Linked DNA regions of Homo sapiens: region 1 is linked to region 2. The links come from fine-mapping of genetic effects on plasma protein levels. Region 2 holds a variant in brackets. A gene starts in the other region. All regions are shown on their forward strands.

Region 1 (5,000 bases), not on the chromosome of region 2:
TCCACGCTCCAGCCTCCAGTCCATCCCTGTAGCTCTTCCCCCACCTCAGCCCAGCTGTGTCCCCATTCCTTCCATCTCCACTGTCTGGGACATTTGTCCCATCTCCTTTTCCAGCCTCCCTTTCACTCCTATGCCAATGATCTTCTCTAACCCACCCCCTCTCAGTCCCTGAAGCACTCTCCATCCACAGCCCTGTTCCCTTCCCTCCTCCACCATCCCATCATACCTCCTGCCCATGTGTTTCCATCCCATCTTCAGCCTCATTCCCATTCCTAACCCCAACTCCATCCTTCCTCCATGTGCCCAGACTCACTCTTTCCATCTTTCCATCCCATCTCCAACCTCATTCCTAACCCTATTCCATTCCCTTCCCCACCAGCAATCCCCATCCCTTCTCCATCCCATGCTTAACGTTCACCCTCATCATCACCTTCTCATCTCTAACTATCCGCATTCTCACCCCCAGTGCCACCTCCACCCACCCTCCATGCTGCTGTGATCTGTCTCCAGCCTCATTCCAGTCCCATGCCTGCCGCGTTCCATGCCTAGCTCCACTCTTACCTCTTCCCAACCCCACTTCCTTATTCCAGCTTCATCTTTATTGTTGGTTTGTTTTGAGATGGAGTCTCGCTCTGTTGCCCAGGCTGGAGTGCAGTGGCGCGATCTCATCTCACTGCAACCTCCACCTCCTGGGTTCAAGTAATTCTCCTGCCTCAGCCTCCCGAGTAGCTGGGATTACAGGCGCACAGCACCATACCCGGCTAATTTGGTATTTTTAGTAGAGGTGGGGTTTCTTCATGTTGGTCAGGCTGGTCTCGAACTCCTGACCTCAGGTGATCCACCCACATCAGCCTCCCACAGTGCTGGGATTACAGTCGTGAGCCACTGCGCTCAGCTAATTTTTGTATTTTTTAGTAGAGATGGGGTTTCGCCATGTTGGCCAGGCTGGTCTTGAACTCTTGACCTCAGGTGATCCGTGCTCCTCAGCCTCCCAACGTGCTGGGATTACAGGCATGAGCCACCACGCCTGGCAGTTTATTTATTTTTCTGAGACAGGGTTTCCCTCTGTTCTCCATCCTGGAGTCCAGGATCATAACTCACTGCAGCCTCCAACTCCTGAGCTCAAGCAATCCTCCCATGTCAGCCTCCTGAGTAGCTGGGACCAAAGGTGTACACCACCATGCCTGGCTAACTCTTAAATTTTTTTTTGTAGAGACAAAGTTTCACTATGTTGCCCAGACTGGTCTTGAACTCCTGGCCTCAAGCAGTCCTTCCACCTGGGCCTCCCAAAGTGCTGGGTTTATAGGTGTAAGTCACCATGCCTGTCTTTCATCTCTATGTCCAATGACATATTCAGCCTTATCCAGGTTCTATCCCCAATGCATCTCCAGCTCAATCTCCAGCCTCATCTTGCACCCTGGCCCCAGCCTATCACAAGCTTCCCGCCCCACTCCACCAGCCCTCACTCACAGAGAGGCGGCGCCAGGCCTGGAAGGTCAGGGAAACATCAGGGAGCTGCTCTCCCAGGGGCAGGAGGTACAGGTTCACTCCTGGCAGGTGAGATTCCGCCTGGGGGGCAAGGTCTGTTAGTGGGGGCCAGAAGGGATTGGGGGTCTGCCCATCTCCAGCGCCAGCTGCATTAGGGGGACTTACAAAGCGGTGGGCCTGGCCCCGAACCTCGGAGAGCAGCTTCCTGGCGAGATGCAGGCTGACTGTGAACTCCCTCCGCAGCTCCTGCAGGCTCAGCTGGGGCCTCCCTGGGGGCCTTGGGAATCCCCAGACACCAGCTTGAACCAGGAGCAAGGGAAGCAGCAACAGGCTGAGCCCTGGAGAGATGGGAAGAGGGTGGCAAGACAGGGAGAGAGCTTGAGAAGGAAGGGAACATGCCTTTTCTGAGCCTGTGCTAGCTGTGAGCACGGTGCAGGCACTTTGACCAGCATCATTCCTCTGCCTCCTCAAAACCACAATGGAGGCTGGGTGCGGTGACTCACACCTGTAATCCCAACAATTTAGGAGACCGAGGCGGGCGGATCACCTGAGGCCAGGAGTTCAAGACCAGCCTGGCCAACATGGCGAAACCCTGTCTCTACTAAAAATACAAAAATTAGTTGGGCGTGGTGGTGCATGCCTGTAATCCCAGCTACTCAGGAGGTTGAGGCAGGAGAATCGCTTGAACCTGGGAGGCAGAGGCTGCAGTGAGCTAACACCACTGTGCTCCAGCCTGGGCGACAGAGCCAGACTCTGTCTCAAAAAAACAAAACAAAACAAAACAAAACAAAACCCCACGATGCAGCCAGCACGGCCCCCATATGGCATCTCCGCATGGTGTGCCCACTTTTGCAAAAAGACCAGAAGCCTGATCCTTTTTTTTTTTTTTTGAAACAGAGTTCTGTTCTATCACCCAGCCTGGAGTGTAGTGGTGTGATCACAGCTCACTGTAGCCTTGAACTCCTAGGCTCAAGTGATCCTCTCGCCTCAGCCTCCCAAGTAGCTGGGATCACAGGGACACACCACTGTGCCTAACTGTTTCTATTTTTTTGTAGAGACAGGGTCTCACTATGTTGCCCAGGCTGGTCTTGAACTCCTGGCCTCAAGAGATCTTCCCGCCTCAGCCTCCCAAATTGCTGGGATCACAGGCATGAGCCACTGTGCCGGGACAGAGACTGGATTTTGACCCCCATAAACTCCCTTGGCCAAATGCCTTTTTCAGTGAGCAACCTGCACAACCACGTGTGGCAGCCTCAGTGCTATTGTTCTCCCCAATTTGCAGGTGAGGCTCAGTGAGGTTGACTTGCCCAAGGTCAAATAGCCAGAAGGTGGGAAGCCAGGACTGGATTCCAGGTTTTTCCAAATGCAGAGCCCATGGGTTTTCCCCAGAGAATGCAGAGGGAGGCAGCCATCTGCCCCAGGAGTGGGCACACCATGTTCTGGCAAGGATTCTTTGGGCTCAGCCAAGCGGCTCTGATGGCTTGAACTGGCCATGAGGTCCCCAGGGATGGGCTGGCAATGCCAGAGGCTCTATTCCAGGGAGTCAAAAGGACAGGTTTGTCCAGTTTCCACCACGGCAGGTGGATCCTAGCAGGGTAACCTGCCTGGGGCGAATCCACAGTATGGGAGCTTTTTTTTTTTTAAGACAGATTCTCACTCTGTCACCCAGGCTGCAGTGCAGTGGCGCGATCTCGACTCACTGCAACCTTCACCTCCCAGGTTAAAGCAATTCTCCTGCCTCAGCCTCCTGAGTAGCCACCACGCCTGGCTAATTTTTATTATATTTAGTAGAGAGGGGTTTTGCCGTGTTGGCCAGGCTGGTCTCCAACTCCTGACCTCAGGTGATCCGCCTGCCTTGGCCTCCCAAAGTGCTGGGATTACAGACATCAGCCACTGCGCCCAGCCCAGAATGGCTGAATTCCGAGTGTGCTTCCTGACCTGTGTTTTCCTGGAAAGAGGGGCAGCGGATGGGCGCTCTAGGAAGAGGGCAGCATTCATCAATTTCCCCCTCAGGGAGAGGAAATCTAGCAAGCACAAGAGTTACACAATTCTCCTCGAAACACAAACCAAAACTGGCCCGAAGTCCATCCTGCTCTCCCTTCTCTCCCTGCCTCTTCCCTGTCCTCTCTCAATCTCTAACCCCTGGGCTCTGCTCTTCGAAATGTCCCCTGATAAAGGTGAAGGGGAGCTTCTAGGGACATCTACCTCCCTCGTGGGCTTGCAGATGTGGTGGGCGATGCCTAACGTAAGATCTCTGGCATTCAGACTCCCTGGTTTTGGGGCCACTCGGACCCTCTGACATCCTGGAGACTTAAGGCAGAGTGGGGTTCTTCCTAGCTCAATGTTGGGGACAGGGTGGGTGCCCCCAGGCCCTGGTGGATCAAGCCCAACCGTAAGTGAGCTGTGCCATCTCCAACCTGACCTCTGGAGACCCCAGACCCCCTCCTTACCCTCTGCAGCTGATCCTGGGTCATTGGCTCTGGCCTTTGAAGGCTCTGTCTCCATCCTCCAGCCTTTGGTCCCTACCTGCCCTACGTGGCATGTTACCTTCTCCACTGCCTACTGCTCTGGTTCTAGCCCCTGAGTTCTGCAGCCACCAGCCGCAGATTGGACCTCTTTCCAACATCAAACTAAAGACCTTTGACCCAGTGAGGCTGCTGACATCTTGGTCCCAGTGCTCCACTTGTGCCAGCACCTCGTTCTGCTCTTCCTCCAGCCGGCCCCATTCTCAGTCTTAGCCAAGCTGTTTGGCTTCTGCTTATTCACTCCAAACTCTTCATTTATCTGCCTAGACCTGGTCCTTGTCAAATTGCTGGTCCAACCCTCCCCATTCCCACTAGCCAAGGCCTCCTTCTCATCCTCTGCCCAGCCCTGGGTCAGACCACCACCCCACTGCCCCAGGCCCCCACCCAGTCATGCCAGCCTCCCTTCCCATGCAGCAGCCAGCCGAATCCTCAGTCTTGGCCAAGTTGCTGCTCTCAGCTCTCGACCCCCCATCTGCACCAGCCAAGCTCGTCCATTCTCTGCCCAAACTCAACCAAGCCCCCCACCCCTGGCTTCAAACTCACGCCAGCCAAGGTCGCCTGCCGTCTGGCCCATGGCGGGGCCCAGCCTCTTTGGTCAGCCATCTCCTGGGTAGGGGGGGTCTTATACTGGGGGCTGTGCCCGGTTTCACTTTCCGTCCTGCTTGTACTTTCAGCTTTGTGTTCACTCATTCTTCCCTCTCGCCACCCCTTGCTAAAATGGGGAAATGTAATTTCCCTTCCCGGAGGGGGTGGGAGGTATGATGGGGGGTGACGGGAAGCTGGGGTTTCGGGACATCCAAGCTCCAGACTCACTGCTAAGCTCCCACGTCCAGCCCTGTCCTCAATGTCCCATGCTTGGGTGAGCCATCCAGCCCTATTCACTGGTTGATCCCAGAGTCCCAAACCCCCTCCTGATTCTCGGCTCTGCCACCATCATCCTAGGGTCTACTGTCCTTCCAAAGATGGATAGCCAGGTAAGGGGATTGC
Region 2 (5,525 bases):
TTTTTAGCATACATTTCATGGTTTGAATTTGCCTCCCACTATTATGCTTCAAAGAAGTTTAAATAATGACTTTCCTCTATTTTCAAGCTCTAACTCCGTGGTTTGACTTTCAAGATCCTTGACAATATAGTCTTAATATAACTTTCCACACTCCTATCCTACTGTTGTTTTTCATGAACCTCACGGTCCAGTCAAACTGGGATACCAGTCCAAGAATAGGCCTGGGTATACCTGCCTTTGCTCTCTTTATCTTTCTGTTTAGAATGGCCTTTCCATTCTTCATCATTACACATTGAAAAATCCAAAGTTAAAGTCTTCCTTCAAGACCTAATGGAAAAAAAAAAAAAAAGACACATCATTTCTAAGATTTTTTTTCACTCAATTTAAGCAACCTCTGAACTTCCATTTTATAGCTTTGTTTCATTGATTTTTATTTTAGTTATTTGGATATGTTTAGTGTTCTCTGATTGACTGTAAGTTCTTTAGGCCAAGAAGCTAATAGATATGTATGTGTTAGTTGGGTTCCTTCCCACTCAAAAAAGTAGAGACTGAGATGAGAGCTTTGTGGGCTGGTCATTTGTAGGCTTTTTGGTTTTTGTTGCTTTTTATTTTATTTATTTTTTCTAGACTCCTTGAGTTAAGGAAAGGTCGCTTGTTTGGAGCAGCGATCTCAGGACTCAAGAGTGACCCGAATGAGAAGAGTGACCAAGGAAGAATGGAAAGTCAATGCAAAACCAAGTTACTGAGCTGGTTACCCTGTGGGTAAGTAAACCTCAGTGCCACTAGGGATTGTCTGAGAAAAGGTATCAATTACACCTCATTTTTTAACCCAAGAATAGAAGAAAGGAGCATGTATATAATGCTTCCCATCCCGTAGTGTTATCCCTTGTGCTTCCAGGTTTGTGCATGTATCAGAATGGTAGAACAGGCTTCTACAAGCATCCCACGCAGTGGTATCAGTGAAGTCATGGGGCATAAAGTGAAAGATACATGGTGTAGTTATGACAAGGTTTTTGTCAAGACTACACCTGCCCAGAGCTGGCTGCTGGAGTAAAAATGTAGACTGACAGGATGTTTGATGGGTATGAAAAGCATCAGATATATCCATTCCTTACACTGCCCCATCTGCTCATGCTCTACTTTAATAGTTCCCCAAAGAGACAGATGCTATATATAGAAGCACCGTATATCAACTATATTCTTCCTTCTAATCAAAAGAGCAAAGGCTCTTGTGCATGTTAGTTCATACAACCAGAATCTCAGCGAGATCTCCAGTCATGGAAAACTAGACTCAGAATTTTCATTTGGACTGAGGTGGAACACTTTCTTGGTCTGGGCTCCCTCATAAGCAGCCCCTGAGACAAATATTCAGTGGCAAGTAGTTTATCACAGAGGTGATCCCATGGAATACACATGGAGGAATAAGTAAGTGAGAAAAAAATGGGAAGGAAGCCAGTCGAGAATACTTAATCAAGCCATTTCTACTGTGGACAACCAGAATTTTATCCTACTGGGGAACTCAGGGAGAGTGTAAAGTATACCCCATTTTTTGATTTATCTCAAAAAATGAGTGAGAAAGTTGGGATATTTATCCACCAGCTCTTTCTGACATTGGTTGAGGGCTGTTTCCAAGGACAATTTCCAGCACTTCTGAACTGCCCTTTGTGTGGGCATGATGGTGGGGGGTTGGGGAGGAACCTTCAGGCATAGTGTCTCCAGCTTTATCAACGAGCAGCCATCAATAAGTTGAGTTGAATGCACCATGGATATGAGGAAAGCATCAAAAGCTGTAGAAATCTGCTATACAAACCCAGCTATATTCACAAAAGTCACGGCATTTTCCAATATTGGCCATGATACACTAGAACACACATCACTGAAGAAAAACAGGTGCTTCCCTTGACTTCATGATAAATTCAGAACTCAGTTATAGCAAAGAAACAAGTGGATCCCTTATGTGTCAGAACTGTTTAAATCAAAGTTATATCATTTCATTAATTTTTAATACCACATATAAATGGTGAACTGCGACCCGAAGGTATATATTTTTACCTACATCATACACTCACAATTGTGTTTACATCTATGCTGATGCAAAATAAAGTCATTGTTGGAACTTCCAAAAGCAGCAATATCAACAGGAGGAATATTTTTCACTTGATGTGTAATCTATTTCTTTGCTTGCTCTGTCAGCTTAATATTAATGGCTGCCCTTAAGTTAGCCCAAAAAAGGCCACGTTTGCTCTTTTCCTTGGGCCATTCCAAATAAGTCCTCCTGGCCATGAGACTTTTGAGCTTGTGATAACTGCTAGGAATGGAGTACTGCGGAATGGGTTCCAGCAAGATCAGGATTAAGCTATTAGATCCTTCATGAAAGAGATTGTGATGGGCAAAGTAGAGTTCATAATGGCACCATTCACTCTGGACAAAGTTGGGAGACAAAACAAAGATGGACTTGTAACTCTTCTCAATGCAGGTGATGATATTTTCCACAATGCTCTTGCCAGGAACAAAGTTTCTCTCATGAAGGCAAATCTGCATACCTTCTTTCTCTAGGTTTGGCAATAATTCATTCTTCACCCAGAAAGAATCGTGCCCACTATATGAAATAAATGCATGAAACTGGAGATTTCTTTGGAGTTCTTCTAAGGGTATGTTCCTGGCCCTGCGCCGGGTCTGGGTCCACTGGCACACCATCCTGAGATACCAGGGCAGATCCAAGTAG[C/A]TGCAGAGGGAGGTCACAGTCACAGCCAACACCAGCATGGTGGCAACGATGGTGACGATCAGCAGAGTTATGTTGCAGGATAATTCAGACATGTGAAAGTCCTTTAGTAGGGTTCCTCTATAACTTTCCGGGTAGTCACACTTATAAGAATCAGGCCAGCCCTCTAACACTTCACTTGATACTTGGTCTATATTTTTGACAAATTCTCCTAGCTCACAGGTACATTGGAATGGATTGTCCCCTGCTTTTATTGACCTCATCTTCTGGCAGCTCTGGAAGAAATCAGCCGATGGGTGGGAAACTGAATTGTGATCAATGATCAATACAGAAAGGCTGCTAAAGCTGCCACATCCAGGAAGGTCAGTTAAAGAATTGAAAGCAACATTGAGTTCTTGCAAAGCTTCCAGTTTTACGACTTGTTTAGGAATGCTCTTTATTTTATTGCTGTGAAGATCAAGTACCTTGATCCTGGGAGGTAAACATCTGAAAATAGTGTCAGTAAGTATATTTGAAGACATATTTAAACTTAATAAACTTTTAGTCCAAGAACAGTCTCCTTTCTTTTCATCATAGCTTACAGAATTCTGGCTAATATCCAATTGTTGCAGAGACTTCATCTGTGTAGTCATTTCAGCTATTTTTGAAAGTTCTTTTAATTGATTCATTTGTAAAATAAGTGTCTCCAACTCAGTAAGGTGCCCACAATTTTCAAAAACCGTGTCTGTTAAGAGATTATTGGAAAAATCCAAATGCAGGAACGGGCTAATTTTGGATGGGCAAAGCATGTGGACCATGCGTGTACCAGACACTGTGAAATTTTTGATGTTCATATTCGAAAAGATTTCATAGATATAACTTTGCGGAAAACCGAACACATCGCTGACAACTTGGTGTATAGACAAGGCCTTCAAGGAAGTGCCAGAATAATCAAAATCTCTGAAGTCCAGCTGACCCTGTAGCTTCACGTTTGAAATTGAGAAATACCATACAGTTGTATGCCAAACCAGCTGGAGGATCCTAATGAAAGAATTCCAAGTTGTTTCAATGTTGTTTAAGGTAAGATTTGATAACTTTGGATTTGTTTGAAGTTTCGCCAGAATACTTAGGAAGTAAGAACATTTGTTATCTTCTAGCACACATTTGATATTAGATAGTTCCAGATTTGCTACAGTCTTGACTGACACATCCAAAATAAAATGGAATTCTTTGTTTGTGGGGAACACAATGTGCAGACTCTCAGTGTTAAAGTCTTGAAGGCCCTCAGGGTCTTCTTTTTCCCCATAAGTCTCTCCTAAGACCAGCAAGACCTTGCTGATATTCAAATGAGCAATTGGCAGCACACTAGATTTTTCTAAGTGTGTGGTGCTCAACCCCAGAAATTTTAGTTGAGACATATTGCCAAACTCTTTGCATATAGGCAGGGCATCAAATGCATTAAATGACAGGTCCAAGTGCTTGAGGTTCACAGTAGGGTGGCAAGAAATCTTCACCAACTTGTTGTGGGACAAATCCAAGTATTCCAATTCCTGGTTGAATTTGAAAACACTGATATCAAGATACTGGATTCTATTATGAGAAATTATCAAAATCCTCAGTTTTGACAGTGATAAGATGTCAGAAGTCCAAAGCTCAGATATATAATTTTGCGATATATTTAAGATTGTTGTTTTCTGGGATAGGTCTTTAGGAACGTGGATGAGACCGTTTTTTGACCTATCAACTAAAAATTCACTTTCTTCAGATAATTGTATTCTGATCTGAAGTATTAACATGAAGATAATGGCAAAATGGAAGATGCTAGTCATTTTGGAACACTAGACATTCCTAAAGGTAGAAGCTGTTCTTCAGATCATCTTGATACAGATACAGATTCTAGAAAAAAAATAATGAAATGATGAAATACATTACATACATTTTTAAAATACACGAAATTAGTCATGGCTGACATTAAACTTTTTTTTGTTACAGACTTATAAAGTGGAGGCTACATTCTTTTGGGTTACATGGCCTAAAACTAGAGAAGTATATATATTGGTAAATAATGATGCCAGCTCTAATCAAATAAGTTTTAATATGGATGGTGTAATAGGTTGAATGGTGGCTCACCAAAAGATATGTCTACATCTTAACCATGTCCTAATCCCCAGAAACCATGAATGTTACCTTCCTTAGAAAAGGGGTCTTTGCAGAGATAATAAAGTTAAGGATCTTGAGATGAGGAGATCATCCCAAATTATCCAGGTGGTCCATAAATCCAATGACAAGTGCTTTTTTAAGAGAAAGGCAGAGGGATATTTGACAAAGAGACAAGAGAAGAGGCAATTGAGACACAGAGGAGAAGGCCTTGTGACAGTGGAGGCAGAGACTGGAGTGCAGCAGCTACAAGGCAAGGAACATCAACAGGCGCCAGAAGCTAGAGGAGGCTCTGGAGTGATGGTGGCCCTGCTGACACCTTGAGTTTCGACTTCTGCTCTCCAGAACGTTGAGGGCAAAGCCACCACGTTTATGATCATCTGTTACAGCAGCCTCAGGAAACTAATACAGGTGGGTTCATAGAAAGTTTTCTGGCCCCAAGCTTCCCAAAATTATTTAGAACTCCAGCTAAGACTCAACTGGTGTACTTTCACTCTTTGACGTACATCTCCCCATGACTTTCTCAAGAGGTGTTCCTAATGGTGGTATTGGGACTGCTCTTCTATTACCCTTTATGACCTATACACGGTTTGGGTCTAACTTTGGTCTTACTCAAAAGGTAATTAGATCCTGATAAAAGGCCTCTCAGAAGATCCATTTATTCATC

Direction of the effects. Positions count from the first base shown, and alleles are read on the strand shown. Strength reflects both the effect of a copy and how common the allele is.
With allele C in place of A in region 2, the plasma level of the protein whose gene starts at base 4,610 in region 1 is lower (moderate association).

What was found. PIP is the chance, under the fine-mapping model, that this variant and not a neighbour inherited with it causes the effect. Protein levels are from antibody-based Olink assays in UK Biobank. Linkage for the fine-mapping came from a reference panel and not from the study's own genotypes, which makes the PIPs less certain.
Region 1: it holds the start of IL27, and the variant in region 2 is fine-mapped to the plasma level of the IL27 protein (UK Biobank, PIP above 0.99).

The regions. Positions count from the first base shown.
Region 1 is chr16:28,502,225-28,507,224 of GRCh38, forward strand. IL27 (interleukin 27) reads right to left here and starts at 4,610. Exons shown (of 5, transcript NM_145659.3): 1 at 4,557-4,610; 2 at 1,654-1,826; 3 at 1,471-1,569. The coding sequence starts at 4,587.
Region 2 is chr4:38,794,302-38,799,826 of GRCh38, forward strand. TLR1 (toll like receptor 1) reads right to left here. Exons shown (of 4, transcript NM_003263.4): 4 at 1,954-4,597. The coding sequence starts at 4,530. The coding sequence ends at 2,170. Among named protein-coding and RNA genes, the nearest start is that of TLR1, 7.7 kb to the right of the region's middle. The variant C/A (reference allele first, on the strand shown) is at 2,726.